3 separate regions of the Homo sapiens genome follow, and all the other regions are linked to region 1. The links come from fine-mapping of genetic effects on gene expression. A gene starts in region 1. Each other region holds a variant in brackets. All regions are shown on one strand. Distances are between the middles of the regions.

Region 1 (8,181 bases):
AGTGAAACCCCGTTTCTACTAAAATACAAAAAAATTAGCTGGGCGTGGTGGCATCTGCCTGTAGTCACAGCTACTTGGGAGGCTGAGGCATGAGAATTGTTTGAACCCAGGAGGTGGAGGTTGCAGTGAGCAGAGATCGTGCCACTCCACTCTAGCCTGGGCAACAGAGCAAGACCTTGTCTCAAAAAAAAAAAAAAAAAAAAAAAAAAAAAGGAGTGGGCAGCCCTAGGACCTTAGGTTGCTTGAGGACTGGATTGGGGATGCCATGTCGGAGCACAGAGATCTGGGAAGCTGAGTGCCTGGGAGCAGAGTGGACAGAGGCCTGGGGGCGGAAGCAGGGCTGCAAGGGCACTCTCAGCATCCGTGAGTGTGCAAGGGGGGGCTGGGGACTACAGGGGAAGGCGGAGCTGGTGGGGGAGGCTCTGCCTGTCTGCTCATGGTTCATCCCATCTGGGTAGGTGAGGGTGTGGACGCAGCACCTAGGGCAGAAGAACTTCATTACTCAGATCAGGAGGAGGAGGAGGGTGGAAAGTGTGAGCTGACAGGGCGCTGAGGGGGTTGGAGGGAGCAAGGCTTAGGGGCGGGGCCTGCCCTACCTGGACCTCTTTGGCATGAAAGGCCACGATGAGGCAGAGGAGTAAGAAGGTGGAAATGCTGATCGTGCATTTAACCAGGAACAGGTAGAGCGCCCACTGTCAGGGGGGACGGAAAAAGCGGTGTGAGATCCCAGGTCTCCCTCCGCCTGGCCCTCCACCTTTCCTTCAAAACCACCATTTTTTTTTTTTGATTCCCAATTTTCCTAGCCTCCTTCCCCTGCAAATCAGTCCCTCTTGATGTGTCGGTTCTGGAGAAGTCTCAAAACCATCATCTGGGCCCAGTGCGGTGGCTCACACCTGTAATCCCAACACTCTGGGAGGCTGAGGCAGGTGGATCACCGAAGGTCGGGAGTTTGAGACCCCCTGGCCAACATGGTGAAACCCAGTCTCTACTAAAAAAACAAAAAATTAGCTGGGTGTGTAATCCCAGCTACTTGGGAGGCTGAGGAACCAGAATCTTGAACCCAGGAGGTGGAAGTTGCAGTGAGCTGAGAGATCGCGCCACTGCACTCCAGCCTGGGCAACAGAGCGAGTCTCCGTCTCGAAACAAGCAAGCAAGCAAACAAACAAACAAAAAAACACCATCATCTGGTCCCCAGGAATGCTCTCTTTCTCCCCAACAGGACAACCCTGTCCAGATGCTGGTGTCTACCCTCTTCCTCAGCTCTTCTCCCAAGACCCATACCCATGAAGGGGGACCTTGAAACTCACATTCCTTCTTATTCCTGTCCCATTTCACATCAAAAATAGTTCTTCAGGTGTGTGTGTGTGTGTGTGTGTGTGTGGGTGTGTGTGTGTGGTGTCTAGAAAAAGACATCTAGCCTCTAGAGAGTGCCCCCTCCCCTTCCCTTCCTACCCACCTGGTGTTGTCCTAGAAACCAACTTCAATCAACCCCAACCCCAGATCTGGAAGAATGTAGAAACTACCATTCAATCCTCAAAGACTGAGTCACACCCTTCTCTGCTCTCATCCGGAGGGCTGAGTCCCTGAGACCCAGCCTCAGCTCTGAGACAGCCCCCTCGGTTCTGCCCCCCTGCAGCTCCCCACTGCCACCCCTCTCTTCTGGCTCTAAGCCCAGGGCAGATCTGGCCGGAAGCACAGGGCCTCCAGAAACCACGGAGAAATTGTTCCTTTTTTTTTTTTTCCTCTCTTTGTGTGGCACAACCTTGGAGGAATCTAGAATTCTGGAGAGAGGGATTTAGAGGGGACTGGGACTGTTGGATTTCCTAAGAGGGGTTGGTCCCTGCCTGGCGGGTATTTGCAGGGGGAGGGGACCACCTGGGCGTCCTTACAAAGCATTGCACCTGTTTCTCCTAAGAGGGCTGCCAGCTCCCCTGGCTGGGCCAGCATCCCGCCTCTGAGCAGGGGAAGAGGGCCAGTTTCCTGCCCCAGGGGCCTGCTCCCCAACCCCCTATCAGAACAATAGTGCTGTTGTCACCAGCCCTCCCCCACCTTCTATGGCTCCCTGGTTCCCTGCCTCTTTCTTCAGTCTGTCTTAACTGCCCACACCACTAGACAACAAGCTCCCTCCTCACACTGCAATTTGCTTCTCTGGTGGTCCTCTCTACTTTTCCATTTCCTCTTCCCCCAAATCCCGGACCTGTCTGCACTTGGGCCTGTACTCTGTTCTCTGAATTTCCCTGTCTCTAGGGATGGTTGTTGCTGTCTTTCTATGTGTTTTGAGGGTCTTTGTTTCTATTGTCTCTTTTTTTTTTTGAGACGGAGTCTTGCTCTGTCACCCAGGCTGGAGTGCAGTGGCACGATCTTGGCTCATTGCAAGCTCCGCCTCCTGGGTTCACACCATTCTCCTGCCTCAGCCTCCTGAGTAGCTGGGACTACAGGCACACGCCGCCATGCCTGGCTAATTTTTTGTGTTTTTAGTAGAGATGGGGTTTCACTGTGTTAGCCAGGATGGTCTCGATGTCCTGACCTTGTGATCCGCCCACCTCGGCCTCCCAAAGTGCTGGGATTACAGGCGTGAGCCACCGCGCCCGGCCCTCTATTGTCTTTTCTAACGCTGTGTGTGTATCTCTCACTGGTGGATTTCTCAGTAGCTTGATAGCCCTATTTGTCTTTCTCTTTAGCTGTACTTCTCTATCTTTCTGCATTTTTGTCTCCATCTCTCTTTTTCTCTCCATGTATCTCTGTGTCTCTGTCTCTCTCTGTACCTCTCCCCATCCCTCCTCCTCCACCCCACCTGGTGCTTTTGGATATCTCTATCCAGTTCCCTTGGACTCCCTAGGGTTTTGCACCTGCCTCTCTGCCAGCCCCTCCCCCTGGGGAGCAGGTGTCTGGGTCCTTTGCAGAAATGAGCTCATTAGATTGAGATGGAGGTGGTGAGGGGCGGTGGATGTTATTAAGAGAGTCCTCAAAAGGGGACTGAGGAGCTGTGGCTCAGGCCTGTAATCCCAGCACTTTGAGGCAGGAGGATTGCCTGAGTCCAGGAGTTCAAGACCAGCCTAGGCAACAAAGCAAGGTCCCATCTCTACATAAAATAAAAAGGGTGGAGGGTGACCCTTAGGGTCATGTATTTTAACCCTCACCCCAATTTACAGATGGGGAAACTGAGGTTCAGAGGGTTGTAACAGCTTCCCCAAGGTCCCACTGATAGAGGCAGTGGCCTGGCCATGGTGGAGGGAAGGAAGAAATGAGGGGTGAGAAAGCAGAGGGGTGAAGTGGGGTAGGATGGACCCCGTCTCTTCCCATCTGCCAGGGTCACTGTGTTCCCACCTCGGCTTCTGGGTGCGGTGCTTCGGCGTGGGAGCGGCGGGCAGGCCCCGGCCATGCTTCCTGTTGGCATGGACTTCGGCGGCCCCACCCCCTCAGTGCCCGCCGCCTGCCAGAGGAAGCTGCATGCCTGACCCTCCATGTGGCTCCTGGTCACTTCAGAGCTGCCCACCACCCCCTCCAGATCCAAGTCGGAACATCAGACCCTCAGGAATCTACCCAATCTTCATATCAGTGTCCGCATCTGGCCCTACCAGCCCAGTTCCACAACCCTTCTGCCAGAGAGGTCTCCAGCCCCTCCTTTCCTGTTGAGCAAGTCTGTTCTCCCCTCAAGCCACTTATTCCAACCCTTGTCCTTGATCTGCCCCATCACTGGCCTGACCAGGGCTGGAATGTGACGGGAGCCTGCTGAGACCTGCCCTGACCCCACTTTCCCCTTTCTTCCCTACTCACCACTCATCTTCGGAGTCAGCCCCTCTTCCCCAAAAGCAATCAAAACCCCCTTCTCCTTAAGACTCAGGAATCCAGGACCCAGCCCCCTCCTCTCCTGGTACCTAGGAGTCCAGGCCACTGTAAGCCTACCTCTCCACTATTTCCCTGACTAATCAGCATGCAGATTTGGGGAGAAATTGAGCTTGTTAACAGTGGAGACTGGGTTGGGGTTGGTGGGGGGAGGCAGGTCGGGGGAGAGGTTTGTTTCCCATTTCCCATCCCCACCCCCAAGGCAGTTTTTTCTGTCCTTTGCATCTAAGGCACTGGGTAAACATTAGAGGTTAGACAAGGACCAAAGAGCTGCCGCCTACTGGAAGAACTTTGTCTTTCCTCCACTCTCCCTTCACCAAACCTGGGGCTACCTCTCCCCTTATTGGCTCTTGGGGGGCTTGAGTGTCTGATCAGCCACCCTCTGGCCTCCAGGGGTCCTGGACCTCTGGCCGTCTAATGGCAACATCTTCAAAGACTGAAACACTGAAACAAATATTCCCTTCCTTTTGCAGAGAAGGACCCCAGCAACTGTCTCCTGGGAGCACCCAGGAGTCCCAGCCAAAGCCCCTCCTCCCTCAGACCCAAGAGTCTAGGCCCCCAACCTCTCCTCCCTCAGATCCAGGAGTCCTGACCCCCAGCCCCTCCTCCCTCAGACCCAGGAGTCCAGACCCCAGCCCCTCCTCCCTCAGACCCAGGAGTCCTGACCCCCAGCCCCTCCTCCCTCAGACCCAGGAGTCCAGGCCCTCAGTCCCTCCTCCCTCAGACCCAGGAGTCCAAGTCCCCAGTCCCTCCTCCCTCAGACCCAGGAGTCCTGACCCTCAGCCCCTCCTCCCTCAGACCCAGGAGTCCTGACCCCCAGCCCCCCCTCCCTCAGACCCAAGAGTCCTGACCCCCAGCCCCTCCTCCCTCAGACCTAGGAGTCCCAGCTCCCAGCCACCATGCCCCACTCACCGAGCACCCCCCGAACCACAGCATCTCTGCATGCAGCACCATGAGTCCAATGCCAGTTCCTGCCAGCACCAGTGCCCAGCCGGCCAGAGACTTCTCCTGCTCCAGCAAGCGCTTTCGGCGTCTCAAGGCCCCCAGGCCAAGCACCAGATCCCCGCCCATGGCCCCCGGGGTCTTGGGGCTCAGCCAGCTTCCTGCCCAGGGTCCCCCACCTCGCAGCACGCACAGGGCAGCCACTGTGGCTTGCAGGTCGTCAGCCTGCTCTGCTGGCTCTGGGACTTTTGCTCTGAGGCACAGCAGAGCCCTGTGCCCTCTGGGGAGTGGTGACGGCCAGGCAGGGCGGGGAGGGGCAGGGGAGGCCCCAGGGTAGGGGGAGGCTCCCCAGCTCCCCCTTTTGAGAATAAGGAGGGGCTAGGGTGTGTCTTGGGGCAGAGCAAGAAAGAGACGTCCATCCACGTGGATAAAGACACACACAGACACACGATGGGCTTTGTCACACACAATGGTCTGTACTTTGTGACACACACCTCTACTCACCACACCCAGACACCGAAGGACACTCCACAGCCCAAGACGGAGACTAACACACCAGGGCACACAACACAACCTACACAGAGTGACTCACAACTCCCAGCAAGCTCTGAAACCCACAGCCACACCCAGACACCACACACATGGTGTGACACACACCAGCACTTAGCAAGCAGGCAGTATCCCGTGGCACACACAGCCACCCAAACACCGTCCACACACAGGCACAAATATTACACTCAAAGTTGTCACAACTTTCTCTGACACAAAGAGCCACACCCAAACACCACAAATAGGACGATGCACAACTGTGGCCACACAAACACAACATACACCAGGTGTTACACAAACACACAATATATATTAAAGTAGTGACGCCCTGATGCCACACACCACACACCGACACAAACACTGTGCAGTCCCAGTTTCCTAAACACTACACACCCTTGGAACGAAACCCAATACGTGTAGACACACAACATTTAGGGACATACCTATAGTAGCCCCCAATCACCCAGAGCTAGAGAATTGCACATACATTGTGGCGCCTGTTGACTCGAACACAAGTGCTCGCAGTGATGATTCAAAACACGCACTGATTCAGCATGCTCTGATGTGTGGTGCGATTCAAATGTATGGTCAGAGGACAAGCTGAGTGGATGCATGCAGAGACCTACAAGGTACAGCGACACACGGAGAAACCCAAGAAGCACATGCCTGAAGCAAGATGATTCTGGTATATTCTGGCCACACAGGACAACATCCAGGATGATGCCCTGGGGGAAGGGGATGGGGTTGGACCTTCATAGACCCCAGTGCCCAAATGCAACATACGGCTGGGTGCAGTGGCTCATGCCTGTAATCCCAGCAGTTTGGGAGGTTGAGGTGGGAGGATTGCTGGAGCCCAGGGGTTTGAGACCAGCCTGGGCAACATAGCAAGATCCTATCTCTAAAACAAGCAAAAACAAAAAAACAAACGCAACATACACCATCACCTCTGAGCCATGAGCCACACCCAAACATGACATACAATACCTCCACACAACCCAACACGTTATATTCCAACATGCGTGGCCACACAACAACATACGCGGAGTAATACACCAGCACACAGTAACGCAAAACACATAAACACAATGTTTTCCAACACACCCAACCTTCCACAAACGACCACATGTCCCATAAAACACCAGATGTCACCACTCACTGATACTACTGACACTGAGGTCTACCGCCACCCACACAACACCAGCATCGGGGGAGGGGGGTGTATCCTCTGACACAACATAACACACAGCTACACAAACACAAGACACTTGGGGTGGTTGGCACTCAGGGTGGGTGCTGGGGGCTGAGAAGGAAGAGGCCCCCAACAGGGACATGGACCCTGACGTGAGATACAGCAAATGCCAGTGTGGAATGTGCACGGTGACTCTCAGAGCAACACACAACATAGGACATCTCCATGTGTCGCAGCACGAGCCACTCATGGATCTGTACACCATACGCTCCGACACAGATCAAACCCTCCTGTGGAGACACACAGGCATGCACTGACCTGGTGACGCACATCACCTCCCAGCATCATGCACTGAACTGGTGACACTGCCCTTGGCCTCATGCACACCCCTCTGCAAGGAACCTGCGGACACAACCCTCCCCCTCCTTGTGTCCTAGGTCGTGTGGGACCCTGGACCCACCAGCCCCAGGGAAGCGAGACACGCACAGACATGTCTGACTGCACACCAAGGCAGCCCACACAAACACACCCAGAGACACCAAACCATACACATGGACACGCCCAGTGGCAAAAACACAACCCTTGCGGGGGCTCCGCCCCTCGGCACACACAATTACCCACTCGGCGAGACTTGGCGGGAGAGGGCTGGAGACACACCCGGGCGCGCCCAGACACCACACATGCGTCCACTTGGGGAAAGTGCAGCCGCCGGGCACTCCTGAGCCTGCAGCCTGGGCACCCCTGCCCACTGGCCGCCCGGCTCGCTGCGTCTCTCTCCTCCCTCTCCGGCTCTTTCTCTGGTTCTTTGGGACTTGCTTCCTGTCTCAGTCTCTCCTGATCTGGAAACCTCCGCGTTTGTCTTTTTTTTTTTTTTTTTTTTTTTTGAGATAGAGTCTTGCTCTGTCTCCCATGGCTGGAGTGCAGTGGCACGATCTCGGCTCACTGCAACCTCCACCTCCCAGGTTCAAGCAATTCTCCTACCTCAACCTCCCGAGTAGCTGATATTACAGGTGTGCACCACCACACCCAGCTAATTTTCGTATTTTTAGTAGAGACGAGGTTTCACCATGTTGGCCAGGCTGGTCGTGAACTTCTGACCTCAGGTGATCCACCCGCCTCGGCCTCCCAAAGTTCTGGGATTACAGGCGTAAGCCACCGTGCCTGGCCAGGTTTGTCTTTATCTCTGTCTCTGTTCTTCTCTCCTGGTACCTTTGTCTCTCTCTGTCTCTCTTCACTCTGTCTCTCTGTCTCTGCCTCTCTTAGCCTCTCTGTGTCTCTCTCATCGCTCTGTCCCTTTCTCCATCTTCGTGTCCCTCTCTGCTCCTCTGTTTCCTTCTTTCCCCGTCACTGTCTCTCTGTCATGTCTCTCTCTGTGTTCATCATTGCCTGTGTCTCTGTCATCGTGTCTCACTCTGTCTCCATCTCTCCGTCTCTAGGGCCCTCTGTTTTTGTCTGTCTCTTGCTGAATCGGTGTTTCTCTCCGTCTCTGTTTCACTCTCTCCCTGCCTCCTGGTCTCCTCTTGGGTCTCTCTCTCTCTCTCCGGGCCTCTCTATGCTTGTCTCTGCCTCAGTTTCTCTCTGCTGTTCACTGGCACATCTACGGACAGCCTGGTTCCTTCCGGTTCTACCCCAGTCCCACTCAGGGGTTGAGGGCC
Region 2 (8,181 bases), 270 kb after region 1:
TCAGAGAAAACTCAAACTATTTTTTTAAGAAAACATTTGGAAGATATGTTAATATTGTAAATGTATAAATAATACTTAAAATTAAGGAGAAAAGACCAAAAACACAATAGAAGATGGGACAAGAGATTTGTACAGTTTCCAAAAAATATAATAATGGTCCTTGAAAATATGCAAAGATGAGGTGCAGCAAACCACCATGGCACATATACCTATGTAACAAACCTGCATGTTCAGCACATGTATCCCACAACTTAAAGTAAAATAAAGAATAATTATTATTATTATAATAAATGTCATAACATTTTAGAGGGGGAAAGAAAATTAGAGATTATCTTATACAACTTGGTTATTTTACAAATGACAAAGCTGTGTTTCTAATTCTTTAACTTGTGAATAAATGTGATGAATAAATGTGGAAAAAAAGGAATATAGGCCTGACTGTGACATTTACAGGGTTCAGGGCAAGAATACAAATGGAGGCCTACCTACCATATGCCTTGATATTTAAGTGTACAAAGCAAGCTAATAACATGTAAAATAAAATATGTTCTACCCTTATAAAAAAAGAAAATATGCAAAGATATTCCATGATATTTACAAAAAAAAATACAAATTAAAACTACATTTAGTTACCATTTCTTACCATTAGATTGGGAAAACTTTAAAAACATCAAAATACCACATTCTGTTAGCTAGTGTCAAGGCAAGACATTCCTCATACATTGCTTCTGGAAATGAAAAATAGTATAAAATATAAAGGCAATTTGACAATATGCAACAAAATACACTTCTATTCCCATTTTGGCCCTGAAATCCTACTTTTTGAAATGTACCCTTAACATATATCATCAACAGGGAGAAAATATATATGTATGAGTTTATGTATCATGGCATTGTTTGTAGTAATAAAATATTGGAAACCACTGAAATGCCCATGAATGGGTGCAGTATTGAATAAAGCACACAATGGAGTTTGTGGAGTTGTGAAAAGCATGTACTCTATATGAAGTGATTTTCCAGGATATATTGTTGAGTGACCATAGAAGGTTTAGATGAATGCTACCTTTTGTTTAAGTAAACAGCGAAAATAAGAAATCTACATGTTTTCTGTAAAAACTGGTAATGATAAACCAGAAAATAATGAAATTGGTTACACATGGGTATTAGGAGTCAACACTGTGGAAGTGGTGCGGTGGAAAGGAGGGGAGTGAGTGGCACTTTTCTGAGAATAACATTTTGTATAGTATAGACTTATGGGAATATGTTATTGATTGACATAATAATATAAAATCAAGAATGGAGATAAACCAGGAAACTTAAAATCAAAGAATAACAGACTAACCTAAATGCATTCAAATCAATAACACAGACTAAAGATGAAAGCAAGAAGTCATTTAAGTACCATATTAAACACAGTACAGTATTTTGAGTATATGTCCTCAGCATAAAGACAAAAAGAACTGTAATGATGTTGAACTCTAGTTAGCTGAGTTATTTTTACAATAATATGACTTAGTAATTATGAAACTACCTGATGCAATGGTTTAAATGTTTGTGGACCACTAAAATTCACATGTTTAATTCCTTACCCCCAATAAGATGGTTTTAGGAGGTAGAGCCTTTGGAGGGTGATTAGATTATGAGGGCAGAACTCTTATTAATGGGATGAGTCCCTTTGTAAAAGAGACCTGAGGAAACTTGTTCATCACTTCCACCATTTGAGGACATTGCAACAAGGTGCCACCTATGAACCAGAAAGCAGCCCCACTTCAGACATAAAATCTCCCAGTGCCTTGATTGTGAGGAATAAGTTTCTGTTGCTTATAAGCCAGCTAGCCCATGGTTTTTTGTGACTAAGAATATTGGTATTGAGAAGTGGGATTGCTGTTGTAACAAATATCTAAAAATGTGGAAGTATCTTTGTGACTGTATAATGGGTAGAGGCTGGGAGACTTCTGAAATGCATGCTAGGAAAAACCTACATTGTCATGATTGGACTGTTAAAGACAATTCTGGTTAGGGCTCAGAAGGACAGAATGAGAGCTAGAGAAAGCATCAGTCTTCTTAGAGTAAACCTATGTGGTCACGATCAGAATGTTGATAGAAATATGGACAGTAAAGGCCATTATGATGAGACCTCAGTCAGAAATGTGGAACATGTTACTGGAAACTGAAGAAAGCGGGGTTCTTGTTATAAAGGGGTAAATAATTTGGCTGAATTATATTCAGGTCCTAGTGTTTTTTGGTAGGTAGAACTTGTGAGCAATGTAATTGAATATTTAGCTGACACTATTTCTTAACAATGTGTTGAAGTTGCATCTTGAATAATCTTGACTACCTATAGTAAAATGTAGAAAGTGAGAAGTGACTGAAAGCCGGAATTACTAATTAAAAGGTAAAGAGAACTAAATACTTTTAAAATTTGCAGCTTATCTACTTTGGAAAACATGCAAAACCCTGTCCTGGAGAAAACAAGGGTGTGGCTGAACAACTGATTTATGAGATTAGTATGGATTGACCATGTTGACTCAAACCAGGACCTATTGTCCAAGACAATGGAAGAATGACCCCAGAAGTATTTCACAGATCTTGGAGGCTGCTCCTCCCATCAGAGGCCCAGAGCACAGGGACGTGGGCAACAGCAGGGACCTTTGATGCCAGGTGCCGCCTAACATCTCAGGCTCAGCTCCTTGCATACACTACCACTGAGAGTATCAATAAATTTTATCTTTTGTGAATGCAGAGTAGAGTAAGGATACAGCTGTAATTGGTATAGGAATAGCCATCACTCAATTTTCAAGGGGGCATTGAAAATTTGTTTGGCACTATGTGGTTGCTCAGTCACCTTAATTTTTGTCCAAACCAAACTGTGAAACGTCAGCCAGGTGCAGTGGCTCACACCTGTAATCCCAGCACTTTGGGAGGCCAAGGTGGGCAGATCACGAGGTCAGGAGATTGAGACCATCCTGGCTAACACAGTGAAACCCCCATCTCTACTAAAAATACAAAAAATTAGCCAGGCGTAGTGGCACATGCCTGTAGTCCCAGCTACTTGGGAGGCTGAGGCAGGAGAATCACTTGAACCCAGGAAGCAGAGGTTGCAGTGAGCCGAGATCGCGCACTGCACTCTGGCCTGGGCAAAACAGCAAGACTCTGTATCAAAAAAAAATTGTGAACAGTCTTTTTTTAATTTTTTTTTATTTTTTTTTACTTTAGGAAAATGGATACAGGACATTAGACTCTTTTTAAAAAGAAAAATATAGGTCGACAGGTCAATGTATGTTTATTTGGGAGGACAAAAAATATGGTTTATCTTCAAAAGAGAATTTTAGATGAATTGTTTCCTGATTTAGCTTTATACTATTATTAATGTCTTTCAACTAACATATGCCAGTTTTCAAATTGTTTCCTATAATGAAGATATTTTAACCAAGAAATGGAAAGGAAGAAACTCTTAATAATAAATCATGCTCCGTCACCTATAGAATCTTCTCCAGTTTTATGGCATTGAATCAGACATTGGGTGTCAGATTGATACCAATGCCAAGCTCTTCAACAGTTATACTTGCTTTAAGATACTTAGCAATTCACTAACTTCTCTGAAATTTAGCGTTTCTACATCTAAAGTAGAAATATTACTACCATGAGAATGTTAAATGTAGCTTTTCCATGAGGACACAGCTTCTCCATTGGTGGCTGGAATTTTGTTTTTCCTGTCAAACCAGTGGTACCACAGCATCTGGACTAGGGCTGTAACTGAGAACCACCATTTTTCTAAGAGACAGCTTATTTATTTCTCTCTCTTTTCTCATTCCCTTAGTTCCCCACTTCCTATGTAGCCCTTTAAAAATGCAAATATAGACTTTTACCTCCCCTTCACCAGACACTTCCTACAGGGAAAGTTCATCTAACTGTGTGCTCCAAGCCAGAACTCTCCTCCAGAATTAACAGTCAATTTACAAACTAAAGCATGCTGGCCTCTGAACTCTCACTCACCAGGAGGTTGCCTGAAGAGACAACAGTTGAAAGCGTGCCTGCTACTCTCTCCCTTCTGGTTACAACTTATTTCTGCCCATGAAAAAGCCAGCTCAACTGCCTAATAGATAAGGCACCAAGCCAGCACACAGACCCCTTCCCTCTTCCTCCCCTACCTTTTAAAAGTGCCTGCTTTCTGCTCTAAAAGCCAAGCCGTGCACTTAAAGACAACACCTGTGCTACTTCCCCTACGCTAGCTCTAGAATAAATCACTTTCTTTATACCAGATCTCCCTCTTGTTAACTGGACGTTGCAAACGGGAAGCCACTGATCTACTTTTCAGTTACAGGGGCTGATGCTTTCCTGGCTTCTCATTGCCCCTCCCAACCCATTCTACCTGGCTCATTCTTTAAACCAGTGGTCCCCAACCGTTTTAGCACCATGGACCGGTTTTGTGGAAGACAATTTTTCCACGGACTGGGGAATGGTTTCGGGATGAAACTGTTCCACCTCAGCCATTAGATTCTCATAAGGAGCGCCTGACCTAGATCCTTCGCACGCACAGTTCACAATAGGATCCGCGCTCCTATGAGAATGTAATGCTGGGCTGATCTCACAGGAGGTGGAGCTCAGGCCATAATGCTCCCTCACCTGCCGCTCACTTCCTGCTGTGCCGCCC[G/A]GTTCCTAACAGTCAGTGGACCGGTACAGGTCTGTGGCCCTGGAGTTGGATATCCTTGCTTTAAACCCTGAGCCTCCTTTCAGCCATCTGACGGCTCAACAGTCACTCTATCTAGCTCCTTGAATATTGTATCTCCTCGCTTGTTCCCTGTCCAAGAACACTCCTGTCAATCATGGGAGACATTTAGACTTCATAAATTCTTTCTATTCAATATTTTCGCTCGAGGACTCTGGGAAGGACAACTGTCAGGGTAACAGTCTGCATTCCCCACCAGGAACCTGGGGCTATGAAATTCGTTCCCCGTGGGTGTTGCGGGAAGTGTAATCGAGGAGCACCATGTAGTCGCAACACTTGAGCCTAAAGGGTGAGGTGATGGACATTTTCCTTTTGCATCTGAGGCTCTGCAGTCCAGACACCTTGCGGGATTCCTGATACTTCAGCTCAGGTAGGCGTTTCCGGAGAATTCTGGGAAGAGTAGTCCATTTTACGGGAAGTGTAGTCCACTGGCTCGTGGAACACTGGGTATTTTGGCTCTGGCAGGTGAACCGTTGAATTCTGGGAACGATAGTCCAGACACTCTGCGGAGTCCCGGGCCCTTTGGCTCAGGGGGGCGGGTCCGGGGAATTCTGGGGAGTGGAGTCCAGACACTCTGGCGCAGAGAGGACACTTCCGGTCTCCTAGTCTGAGGTTCCTGCTTTAATGACCGGGGTAGTTTGAGCCATTTCTGCGTCTTGCAGGACATTTTGAACGAACCCCCTTTGCTTGAGGCTCGCAACCACCCGATGATCGATGATCGTCTCAGGGGAAAAGAAGCCTTGGCGAAGAGCAGAGGTTTAGAGGTGCGAGGGCGGGGAGGGTGTTTATTGTTCCCGTCAGCGGAGCCTTCTGGCGTCGGGGGGCTTTGCTCGCCTCCCGGGGGGTGGGATTGGGGTGGCCTTGTGTGCCCTGCTCTGAGGGTTTCCAGGACTTTGACCTCGCTCAGTCCGCCTCCCTACGTATGCAGTGTGTACACTCTTTCTCGCAGTGTGATGTGGAATGTTAATGTCTCTGTACTTCCCATTGCTGTTCTTTAAAATGGTGCTTATAGGGTCATCCTAATAGAATTGTTTTGCGAATTGAAAGAGATAATACAAATGAAAGCCTTAAAGTTGTCCCTGTCACTTGGTGAGTGGTCTCTTGTTGCCTGATATTTTAAAACGTTTGATATCATTTCAAAGCTATAGAAAAATTGCAAAAACAGTATAAGAAATTCTCATATACCCTTTACCCAAATTTGCCAAGTGTTTACATTTTTCCTGTTTGCTTTGTTGATGACCATCAACCAAATACCACCAGGAACATACCTGTAACCAGAGACAGCTGATTGGTAGCTTTCTGCAGCAAGGAAGCCCACATACCACGGTAATTGTGGGGTGTCTTGGTAAGAGGCATTTAGGAAGGGCTGGTTATAGGGTTTCACATAACATGGTAGATAATATTGGATATTATGTTAAATAATACTGTTACCGATTACATGTCAGATAGATGTGTTAAAAGAATACTAGTATTTGTAGTGTACTTACTAGATAGTGTTGGATAGCATATTACCTAGCATCATGTTATCTAATCTGCAGTTCCATATACGAATTTGTTAAATTTTTCATTTAAAGTCCTTATGACTGTCCTCTGCCCCACCCTTCACCTATTCAAAGTCCAGTTTATGCGTTGTCTTTAGCTGTCACATTTCCATAGTTGTTCATTTGGAGTTTGATATTGAAGGGGGCCTGCCTCTCCACACCTGTGGGTGTTTCTCACAAGGTGGAAATGAGAAACTGAGAAAAGAAATAAGACACAGACACAAAGTATAGAGGAAGAAAAGTGGGCCCAGGGGACCGGCGCTCAGCAAATGAGGACCTGTACCGGCACTGGTCTCTGAGTTCCCTCAGTATTTATTGATCACTATCTCTACTATCTTGGTGAGGGGGATGTGGAAGGACTATAGGGTAATGGTGGGGAGAGGGTCAGCCGGAAAACATGTGAGCAAAGGACTCTGTCATAAATAAGTTTAAGGAAAGGAGTTGTGCCTGGATGTGCACATAGGCCAGATTTATGTGTGACTTTACACAAACATCTCAGTGCAGTAAAGACCAGTATTGCCGCCAGTATGTCTCACCTCCAGCCATAAGGCGGTTTTCTCCTATCTCAGTAAATAGAATGTACGATTGGGTTTTATACCGAGACATTCCATTCCCAGGGATGAGCAGGAGACAGATGCCTTCCTCTTACCTCAACTGCAAAGAGGCCTTCCTCTTTCACTAATCCTCCTCAGCACAGACCCCTTATGGGTGTCGGGCTGGGGGACGGTCAGGTCTTTCCCTTCCCACGAGGCCATCTCTCAGGCTGTCTCAGTGGGTGGAAACCTTGGACAATGCCCAGGCTTTCTTGGGCAGAGGTCCCTGTGGCCTTCCGCAGTGTATGGTGTCCCTGGTTAATCGAGACTGGAGAATGGCAATGACTTTTACCAAGCATACTGCCTGCAAACACATTTTTACCAAAGCACATCCTGCACAGCCCTAAATCCATTAAACCTTGAGTCAATACAACACATGTTTCTGCGAGCACAGGGTTGGGGCTAGGGTTACAGATTAACAGCATCTCAAGGCAGAAGAATTTTTCTTAGTACAGATCAAAATGGAGTTTCTCATGTCTTCCTTTTTCTACGTAGACACAGTAACAGCCTGATCTCTTTTTCTTTCCCCTACAGATATATTTCACATTTAGGTTTAGATTATACATTGTTGGTGGGGATTCCACAGGAGTGTTAAGATGCCCTTTTCTTTTTTTTTTTTTTTGTTTGAGACAGTTTTGCTCTTGTCACCCAGGCTGGGGTACAATGGTGCAATAGGATGCCCTTTTCATTGTAACATAACAAGGTCCAAGTGATGTTCGTTTGTCCCTTCATTGGTGATCTCAGCTTTGTCACTGGCCAAGAAGATGTCTTTCAGATTTTTCCACTCTTATGTTACTTTTTTTTAAATTATGAAGTTTCTTATGGGAAAATACATTATTAGTGGGCATTTTCTTGTAAAAAAGAGCTTCCATTTCTCCTCTATTGGTTCATTGATTTGTTCAACTATAAATATTCTATCAATGTGGACTCAGAATCCAGTCTTATTGATTCTAATGATATGTGCATTAACAGTTTTTTTTTTAAACTCTAGGTTTATTTTAGTTATAGCATTCACCCATTTCAGGTATACAAGTCAGTTCAGTGGTCTTTAGGAACTTTGAAGTGGGGTAATCATCATCATAATTCAGCCGAGATCACTTTCATCCCCCAGTTGGACTCCTCATGCCCATTTACTTTGAACCTCATTCTCAACTCAAATTTAGAACAACTGCTAACCTACTTTCTATTCTATTCTACTTGTCTATTCCAGACATTTCATATAAATGGAATCGTAGGGTCTGTGGGTTTTTGTGACTTGCTTCTTTCATTTACTGTAATGTTTTCAAGGTTCACGGGTGTTGTTGCATGGGTCAGTATT
Region 3 (8,181 bases), 120 kb before region 1:
TTTAAATTAAAAAAAAAAAAGAAGAAGAAAAGAATAAGGATGCCCTATGTAGTCAACTGGATATTATGGAAATGATGGTGTATGCCTTCTGTGGCTAGATCATAGAACACATGCCTGGCTCTCTCACTTGGATCACTTTTTCTGGGGCAAGCAGCAGCCATGTTGTGAGGACACTCAAGTAGCACCATGGGAAAGTTCACGTGGCAGAACTGAGGCCTGTGCCAAAGCCATGGGAGGGGAGCATTCATGTGAGTGAAGCTACCTTAGGAGCCTTCAGATGACTGCAGCCCCAGCTGACATCTCGACTGCAGGCTCATGAAGGATCCTGAGCCAGAACCACCTAGCTAAGCCACTCCAGGGTTTTTGACCTTCAGAAACTTTGTGAAATAACACATGCTTATTTTATTGCTGCAATCTGTAATGCAGCAATAGATAATAGATAAGCAATAGATAATACACTACCTAATTGTCCCAGGGATCAAAGACTCACTTGACTGATTCCTGATCACTTCGCCTTTTGCACGAACCTTGTGGTGTTGGCCAACTGGATCCGTTACTTTTCCCTGGAAACACCAGAGTCATTCCTCTACCCAGCCCTTGGCTCACACCATTTCCCATGCTTGGCATGCCCTCCCCGTCCTGACCCAAGACACATCTAAGCTGAGTCCAGGCCAAGTCTTAAAAAAGTGAGAGGACCATGTCAGCCAAGGTTCTCAACTGGCAGGCCGCTAGCTGTAATTAGGCGAATCATTTACATCCAAAGCCCAATCGTCCCCCTCAAAGAAAAATAACTACAAGGCCACCCACGTCTTCTCACACAAACTTCCATGAAAATGAAAACACAAATTCTCACCATTGCCAACATAGCTGTTCATACCTAGAACACCTTTTCCTTGAGCCCTACTTTCTCTAACTCCTATTCATTCTTCAGCTGTCATCTTCAATTTCACCTCCTCTAGGAAGCCCTCCCTGACCCATCAGCCTGGAACGGGTACCTGCTCTGAGCTCCCACTGCCCCTTGAATTCCCCATTTCTAGTTCTGCCCACTCTGGGTGGTCACTCATGGGTCTCTGGTGTGAACTCTTGTAAATGCCAATGATCCTTAGGGCTATTTTCCTTTTTCTTTTCTTTTCTTTTTTTTTTTTTTTGAGATAGGGTCTTGCTCTGTCCCAAGGCTGGAGTGCAGTGGCTCACTGCCACCTCGACCTCCCTGAGCTCAGGTGATTCTCCCATCTCAGCCTACTGAGTAGCTGAGACTACAGGCATGTGCCAGTTCACCTGGCTGATTCCTGTATTTTTGTAGAGACAAGGTCTTGCTATGTTACCCAGGCTAGTCTCGAACTCCTGGACTCAAATGATCCTGCCGCTTCGGCCTCCTAAAGTGCTGGGATTACAGACGTGAGTACCGCACCTGGCCAGGGCTCTGTTTTAAGCCCTTTTTATCTCTCACAGTATAGACTCTCTCATGGGGTAAATATTGACATGACTTCATTTCCATCTATCTGCTCATCACTCACAAATCTCTCTCTAGTCTAGACTTCTCTCTGAGCTCCAGACACGCAACTGTCTCTTCGAGGCCCCATGGCTATACCTCAAACACCTGTCCTAAACAAAACTCCCCATCTTCTCCCACAACTGCTCTTTTTCTTGAAGTCCACGCGTCCAAGGCGGCCCCATCCAGTCCCCGGGGCAGAAACCTGGCAGACCCCCTTATCTTCCACATCTGTGCATCAACCGACATGCTTCTACTGTTCTGTCTTCTAGCTCCTTAATCCTTTTGCTCTGCTGTTTCTGACCTCTATCAAGCATAACTGCCGAGTTCTTCATTTGAGTCACTGTTCTATATTTTCTGTTGGACTCTTTTAAAAAATGGATTCCAGGTGCTAAAACATATCCTTTCTTCTGTTTTCCTGAATATATCGATTGTAGCAATTTTCATGTTTCCTGTCCTATAATCCAATATCTGAGTTGCTACAATTCTGTTTCTACAGTTGGATTTTTCTCTTGGTTTCTGGTCAATTGGTCCCTTTTATTTTCTTCAGGATACCTTGTAAGGTTTTTTGTTACTGTTTTTTATTTTTTGTTTTTTGTTTTGTTTTGTTTTGAGACAGAGTCTTGCGTTTTGTTTTGTTTTGTTTTGTTTTGTTTTGAGACAGAGTCTTGCCCTCTCGCTCAGGCTGGAGTGCAATGGTGTGATCTCGGCTCACTGCAACCTCCACCTCCCTGGTTCAAGCAATTCTCCTGCCTCAGTCTCCCAAGTAGCTGGTATTACAGGTGTGTGCCACCATACCCGGCTAATTTTTTTTTTTTTTGTATCTTTAGTAGAGAAGGGGTTTCACCATGTTGGCCAGTGTGGTCATGAACTCCTGACCTTGTAATCCTCCCACCTCGGCCTCCCAAAGTGCTGGGATTACAGGCTTGAGCCACCATGCCCGGCCTGGTTTTTTTTTTTTTTAAAGATGGGGTCTTGCTATGTTGTCCAGGCTGGTGTGCAGTGGCTATTCATAGGCATAATCCTGCTACTGATCATCACAGGAGTTTTGACCTGCTCCATTTCTGACCTGGGCTGCTTCAACCCCTCCTTAGACAACCTGGTGGTCCCCTGCTCCTGGGAGATCACCATATTGATGCCAAACTTAGTGCAGACACCCGGTTGATATAGCACACTACAGCCCAGAACTCTCAGGCTCAAGAAATCCTTCCAAGTAGTTGGGACTACAGACGCATGCCACCATGCCTAGCTATCTTGTAAATTTTGATCAGACGCCAGACATTCTAGATAAAAATCTGTCAAGGGCCTAAACGATGTTTTCTTCTTCCACAGAGAGTCAGGTTTTCATTCCTGTCAAGGACTGGACCTAGGCTTGTTTAGGGCTGGTCTATTTCACTTTGGCCCTTACCCCTGGGGTGGTCTTAGGGGGAAAGCCTGAGATGCTTACCAAGGCCTCTTCAGCTTGGCAACCTGTGTCCCCAGCATCACATGTCTGCTGGAAGCCTTGTTCGCTTTTGTAGCTTCCCAGTTGCTATTTTTCTCTTCCAAGTTTCTTGGACTCTCACCCTGTGCATGTAGAGCTTGCCAATGACTTGAGGGAGATTTGTTTGCAGGTTGGGAACTCCCTTTTCTGTGGTCCCATCCATTCCAGGATTTTAACTCTCATCTTCCAGACATTCTGGCAGCCCCAAACTCCAACCTCCGTCTTCTCAGTCTAGCGACTCTCTTTCCGTCTGGGCTCTATTTCCCTTCCACAGCAGCAGATTGGCAAGTGCGCTCCGGGAAAAAGCCAGGTTGTCTGTGGAACCCAAATTCTACACTTCTGTTATTTCAGAGATTGTAGCGCCTCAAGTTTCTCCTTTCTTTCTTTTTTCTTTTTTTTTTTTTTGAAATGGAGTCTCGCGCTGTCGCCCAGGCTGGAGTGCAGTCGTGTGATCTTGGCTCACTGTAACCTCTACCTCCCGGGTTCAAGCAATTCTTGTGCCTCAGCCACCCAAGTAGCTGGGACCACAGGCATGTGCCACCACGCCTGGCTAACTTTTGTATTTTTAGTAGAGACGGGGTTTCGCCATGTTGCCCAGGCTGGTCTTGAACTCATGAGCTCGAGCAATTCACCTGTCTTGGCCTCCCAAAGTGCTGGGATTACAGGCATGAACCACTTTGCCCAGCCAAGTTTCTCCTTTCATTTGCTGCTCTCCAGTGACTTCCAATAATTGTTTATTATTTGTCCAGCATTTGCAACTGT[C/T]ATTGGCAGAAGGGTTGGTCTGATACAAGTGACTCCATCATGACCAGAATTGCAGGTCCCCTCCCACATCTAATCCACCACTAAGGCCTGCTTCTTAATAGCTCTTGTTCGGCTTTGGTTGAGACAGGGTTTTGCTCTGCCGCCTAGGCTGGAGTGCAGTGGCGTGATCACTGCAGCCTCCAACTCCTGGGATCAAGCAGTCCTCCTGCCTTGGCCTTCCAAAGTGCTGGGATTACAGGCGTGAGCCACTGTGCCTAGCCTGAATAGCTCTTAAATCTATCCACTTTTCTTCCTCTGCACACCTGACACCCTAGTCCTGCTGCCCTCTTCTCCACCTGGACAACCTCGCCCACCCCCAAGTTGGTTTCCCCTCATCTACTCTTGCTTCCTTTCAGTCTATCTTCTGTCCTGAGGTCAGAATAATTTGTTAAAAATATAAATGGGGGCCGGGCGCGGTGGCTCACGTCTGTAATCCCAGCACTTTGGGAGGCCGAGGTGGGTGGATCACGAGGTCAAGAGTTCGAGACCAGCCTGGCCAACATGGTGAAACCCCATCTCTACTAAAAATTCAAAAAAATTAGCCGGGCATGGTGGCGGGTGCCTGTAATCTCAGTTTCTTGGGAGGCTGAGGCAGGAGAATCACTTGAACCTAGGAGGCGGAGGTTGCAGTGAGCTGAGATCGCACCATTGCACTCCAGCCTGGGCAAAAAGAGCGAAACTCCATCTCAAAAATAAATAAATAAATAATTGCGATCATGACATTCGCTGTTTAAAATCTTCTGTGATGCCCCAGTGCTCCCAGGACAATGTCTAGAAACCCCTGTGTAACATGCCCCTGCCAAGCTTTCCAGCTCATCTCGCCCCACTGTACTGTTTCCTTTGTCCAGCCACACTGCTTTTGGCCACCTTTGTATCTGCTGCTCCCTCTGCTGGAAAACCCTTTCCACTGTTTTTTTTTTTTTTTGCAGGATCTCGCTCTGTCACCCAGGCTGGGGTACAGTGGTGCGATCATAGCTTACTGCAGCCTCCACCACCTGGGCTATAGTGATCCTCCCGCCTCAACCTCCCAAGGAGCTGGGATCACAGGCATGTACCATCACATCTGGCTAATTTTTTAATTTTTTTGTAGAGTCATGTTGCCTAGGCTGGTCTGAAACAATCCTCCCACCTGGGCCTCCCAAAGTGTTGGGATTACAGGCGTGAGCCACTGCACCCAGCCTCCATTAGCTGTTTAATAGTCTGATTCCTACTCATCCTTCAAGATCCAGCTTAGCTGTTGCTTCCCCTAGGAAACCTTCCCTGACCTGAGTCAGGTATCTCCTCTAGGGTCCCACAGCTCCTACTCTTCCCTCATCCCAGCCCTGACCCCTCTGCCTGTGTTTCCCCCTTCATAGCCCAGACAAATCTATTAGGTTGGTGCAAAAGTAATTGTGGTTTCTGCCATTGCTTTTAATGGCAAAAGCCACAATTACTTTTGCATTAACCTAATAATCAGTCACTGTCTGGTGATGGATGGGTCTGTCACCCCTACACACACACACACACACACACACACACACACACACACACACACACACACACAGGACTGTGAGTCCCATGGAGTCAGGCAGGGCACAAGGCTGTCTTGGTCCCTGCTGTGTTCCCAGCATCATGTAAGTACTGAGTGCAGTTTAACCAACTATGCAAGTTGCCACAAGCAGGGTACAATGGCATTAGAAATGGGGATGAGGCCGGGCACGGTGGCTCACGTCTGTAATCCCAGCACTTTGGGAGGCTGAGGCGGGCAGATCACCTGAGGTCAGGAGTTCAAGATCAGCTTGACCAACATGGAGAAACCTCATCTCTACTAAAAATACAAAATTAGCTGGGCGTGGTGGCGCATGCCTGTAATCCCAGCTACTTGGGAGGCTGAGGCAGAAGAATCGCTCGAGCCTAGGAGGCGGAGGTTGCAGAGAGCCGAGATCGTGGCATTGCACTCCAGCCTGGGCAAGAAGAGTGAAACTCCATCTCAAACGAACAAACAAACAAAAAAAAAAAACAAAAACAAAAGGAAACAAAAAAAAAAAGAAAGAAAAAAGAAAAGAAAAAGGGATGATATAGGTATCTCAGTTATTAGATTCCTGAATTGATAGCTGCTGCTCTAAGCTCCTGGTGGATCCCTGACCACTGCCAACTCTCTCCCCAGGACCCTTCATGTCCCTGTGACCCATCATGGAAAGGGGCAACACCAGGCCCAGCAGCGGACTCCAGGAGTTTGTCCCAGCACTGACCAATATTGTTAAATATTTTCGCTATCATCTCTGATTGAATGCACTACTTAGACCCAAGTATTGGTGCTTTCCTTAAGCACATCTCACCGAGACGGGAAGCCCACATCCTCTCGTCACTTCCTCAAAACAAACATCTGATTTGGCCCCACCAGCGGATTAGTGTTTGAGGTCAGGATGGATGAAAACCAGGCAGAATCAGGATGAATGAAGAACAAAGAAAACCCAGTGCAAACGCAGCACTCTGCTCACTGATGTCACCAACCATGACTAGACTGGCCTTACCCTATTTCCTTCCTCACCAGGTCCAGAAAGAGGAATCTCTTTCACGGATGGATCCATGCACCATGGACCCATTCCTTCCCCACCCTTCCTCTCCTGTGGGAATTTAGGAAAATTTGACCTTTTCTAAGTCTTTTTCTTAAAATGATCAGAGCCTGAAGCCATGAAATTCGACAAAGGGGCTTATGGTTGTTGCCCAGGCTGGTCTTAAACTCTTGGGCTCAAGCGGTTCTCCCGCCTTGGTCTCCCAAAGTGCTTGGATTACAGGCATGAGCCACCACACCCAGCCTATTATGGACATTTCCTCACATTTGTTTTTTCACTGCCCAAGTCAGAGACCATCTATTGCAGAGGATTCTCCCAGCCTACTGCGGCCCATTTAATCTTCCCCTCTTTCGACTTCCCTTAAGAACGTCAAGTCTTTGCTTGAATCCTGGCCCCTCAGTATCTATTGCTTGGACCATCTCCCGTCCCAATGGATTGGGCAGGACCATCTCCTGCCCAGTCAGATGGACAAACATCACTGAGACATCTCATCTATGTCTCATGCATGCGTGTGAGCTTGTTAAGGGCAGAGTTGCAAGTTATACATAACAACCATACATACAAACATGCAGGATGGGGATTGGGTTAAGGATGAAAGTAATTGTGTCGTTGGGGTGGGGATTTGGGTAGTCTGAGATAAGGATGGGGTTGATTTGGGGATGGGGTTGGAACTGTGCTTGGAACAGGGCTGGGTTTGAGTTGGGAACAGTGTTAGGGTAACATGAAGTTGGGCATAGGATTGGAGGTGAAGTTGAGTTGGGGTTGGATATGGGGTCAAGAATGAGTTGGGGATGGAGCTGAGCTAGAGATGGGTTGGGTTGGGGTTGGGACTTGGATAAGGCATGGAGTTGGGGTTCAGCTGATGTAAAGTTAAGAATAGGATTGGGATGATGATGAGGTTGAGCTGGGGATGGCTTGGGGTTGGGGATGGCAAGGGCTGCCCTACTCACCAGAGTTGCCCTGGTTGCACAAGTCTAACCCACACACAACCTCGGTAAGGCTGGTGATCTTCAAGCCAGTCCGATAGCTCAGGGTCCTGTTGGTCTTCTCTGAGTGGGTACAGCTTTTCTCCACCAGCTCCAGCTCTTCTCCTTCTGCAAGGAGGGGATCTTCATTACCCCAGAGGCTCCTCTCAGCTCAACCAGCCTCTGACACTCCTGGTCTCAAGGTCATCCACTCCCAGGGCTGATCTCTGCTAGGCCTCTTCTGTTATTTGAGTCGAACTCTGTCTTTTTCTAGAGTTAACCTTGCCTCCACCCCCACCCCAACAAGGAGCCTGCTCTATTTTATTTCAATTAATTAATTAATTAATTTTTTTTTCCGGGAGACAGGGTCTTGCTCTGTCACCCAGGCTGGAGTGGTGCAATCATAGCTCACTGGAGCCTTGACCTCCCAGGCTCAAGCAGTCCTGCTTCGGCCTCCCGAGTAGCTGGAACCACAGGCTTACATCACCACACCCTGCTAATTTTTAAATTTTTTATACAGATGGCATCTCACTATGTTGCCCAGGCTGATCTCAAACTCCTGGCCTCAAGTGATCCTCCCACCTTGGCCTCCCAAAGTGCTGGAATTACAGGTGTGAGCCACTGTGTCCCACTCCTGCTCTTGTAGTGACAGCACTACAACTGGGACTTTCTGGATCCATCTATCCCTCCCCCACACCCTCAGCTTAGTGATCTCAGTACTGAGATGCCTCAAATGTAACTTTATTTTATTTATTTATTTATTAGAAACAGGGTCTCTGTTGTCCCAGCTGGGGCAATCATAGCTCACCACAACCTCGAACTTCTGGGCTCAAGGAATCCTTCTGCCTTAGCCTCCTGAGTAGCTAGGGGTACAAATGTGAGCTA

The links. PIP is the estimated chance that this variant, and not a neighbour inherited with it, causes the effect.
Region 2: its variant is fine-mapped to the expression of KCNN4 in whole blood (INTERVAL, PIP above 0.99).
Region 3: its variant is fine-mapped to the expression of KCNN4 in whole blood (INTERVAL, PIP 0.93).

What each region holds. Positions count from the first base shown.
Region 1 is chr19:43,775,945-43,784,125 of GRCh38, forward strand. KCNN4 (potassium calcium-activated channel subfamily N member 4) reads right to left here and starts at 5,029. Exons shown (of 9, transcript NM_002250.3): 1 at 4,759-5,029; 2 at 597-692. The coding sequence starts at 4,917. RefSeq lists enhancers at 1,861-2,361, 3,417-3,916, 4,275-4,404, 6,768-6,817, 6,958-7,127, silencers at 2,608-2,657, 5,011-5,280 and a cis regulatory region at 6,795-7,261.
Region 2 is chr19:44,046,703-44,054,883 of GRCh38, forward strand. It overlaps ZNF223 (zinc finger protein 223), which reads left to right and starts at 5,334. Exons shown (of 5, transcript NM_013361.6): 1 at 5,334-5,493. RefSeq lists enhancers at 5,000-5,501, 5,321-5,560 and a silencer at 5,221-5,280. The variant G/A (reference allele first, on the strand shown) is at 4,655.
Region 3 is chr19:43,658,035-43,666,215 of GRCh38, forward strand. PLAUR (plasminogen activator, urokinase receptor) reads right to left here. Exons shown (of 7, transcript NM_002659.4): 3 at 7,282-7,425. It also overlaps the pseudogene RN7SL368P. Among named protein-coding and RNA genes, the nearest start is that of PLAUR, 8.0 kb to the right of the region's middle. The variant C/T (reference allele first, on the strand shown) is at 3,738.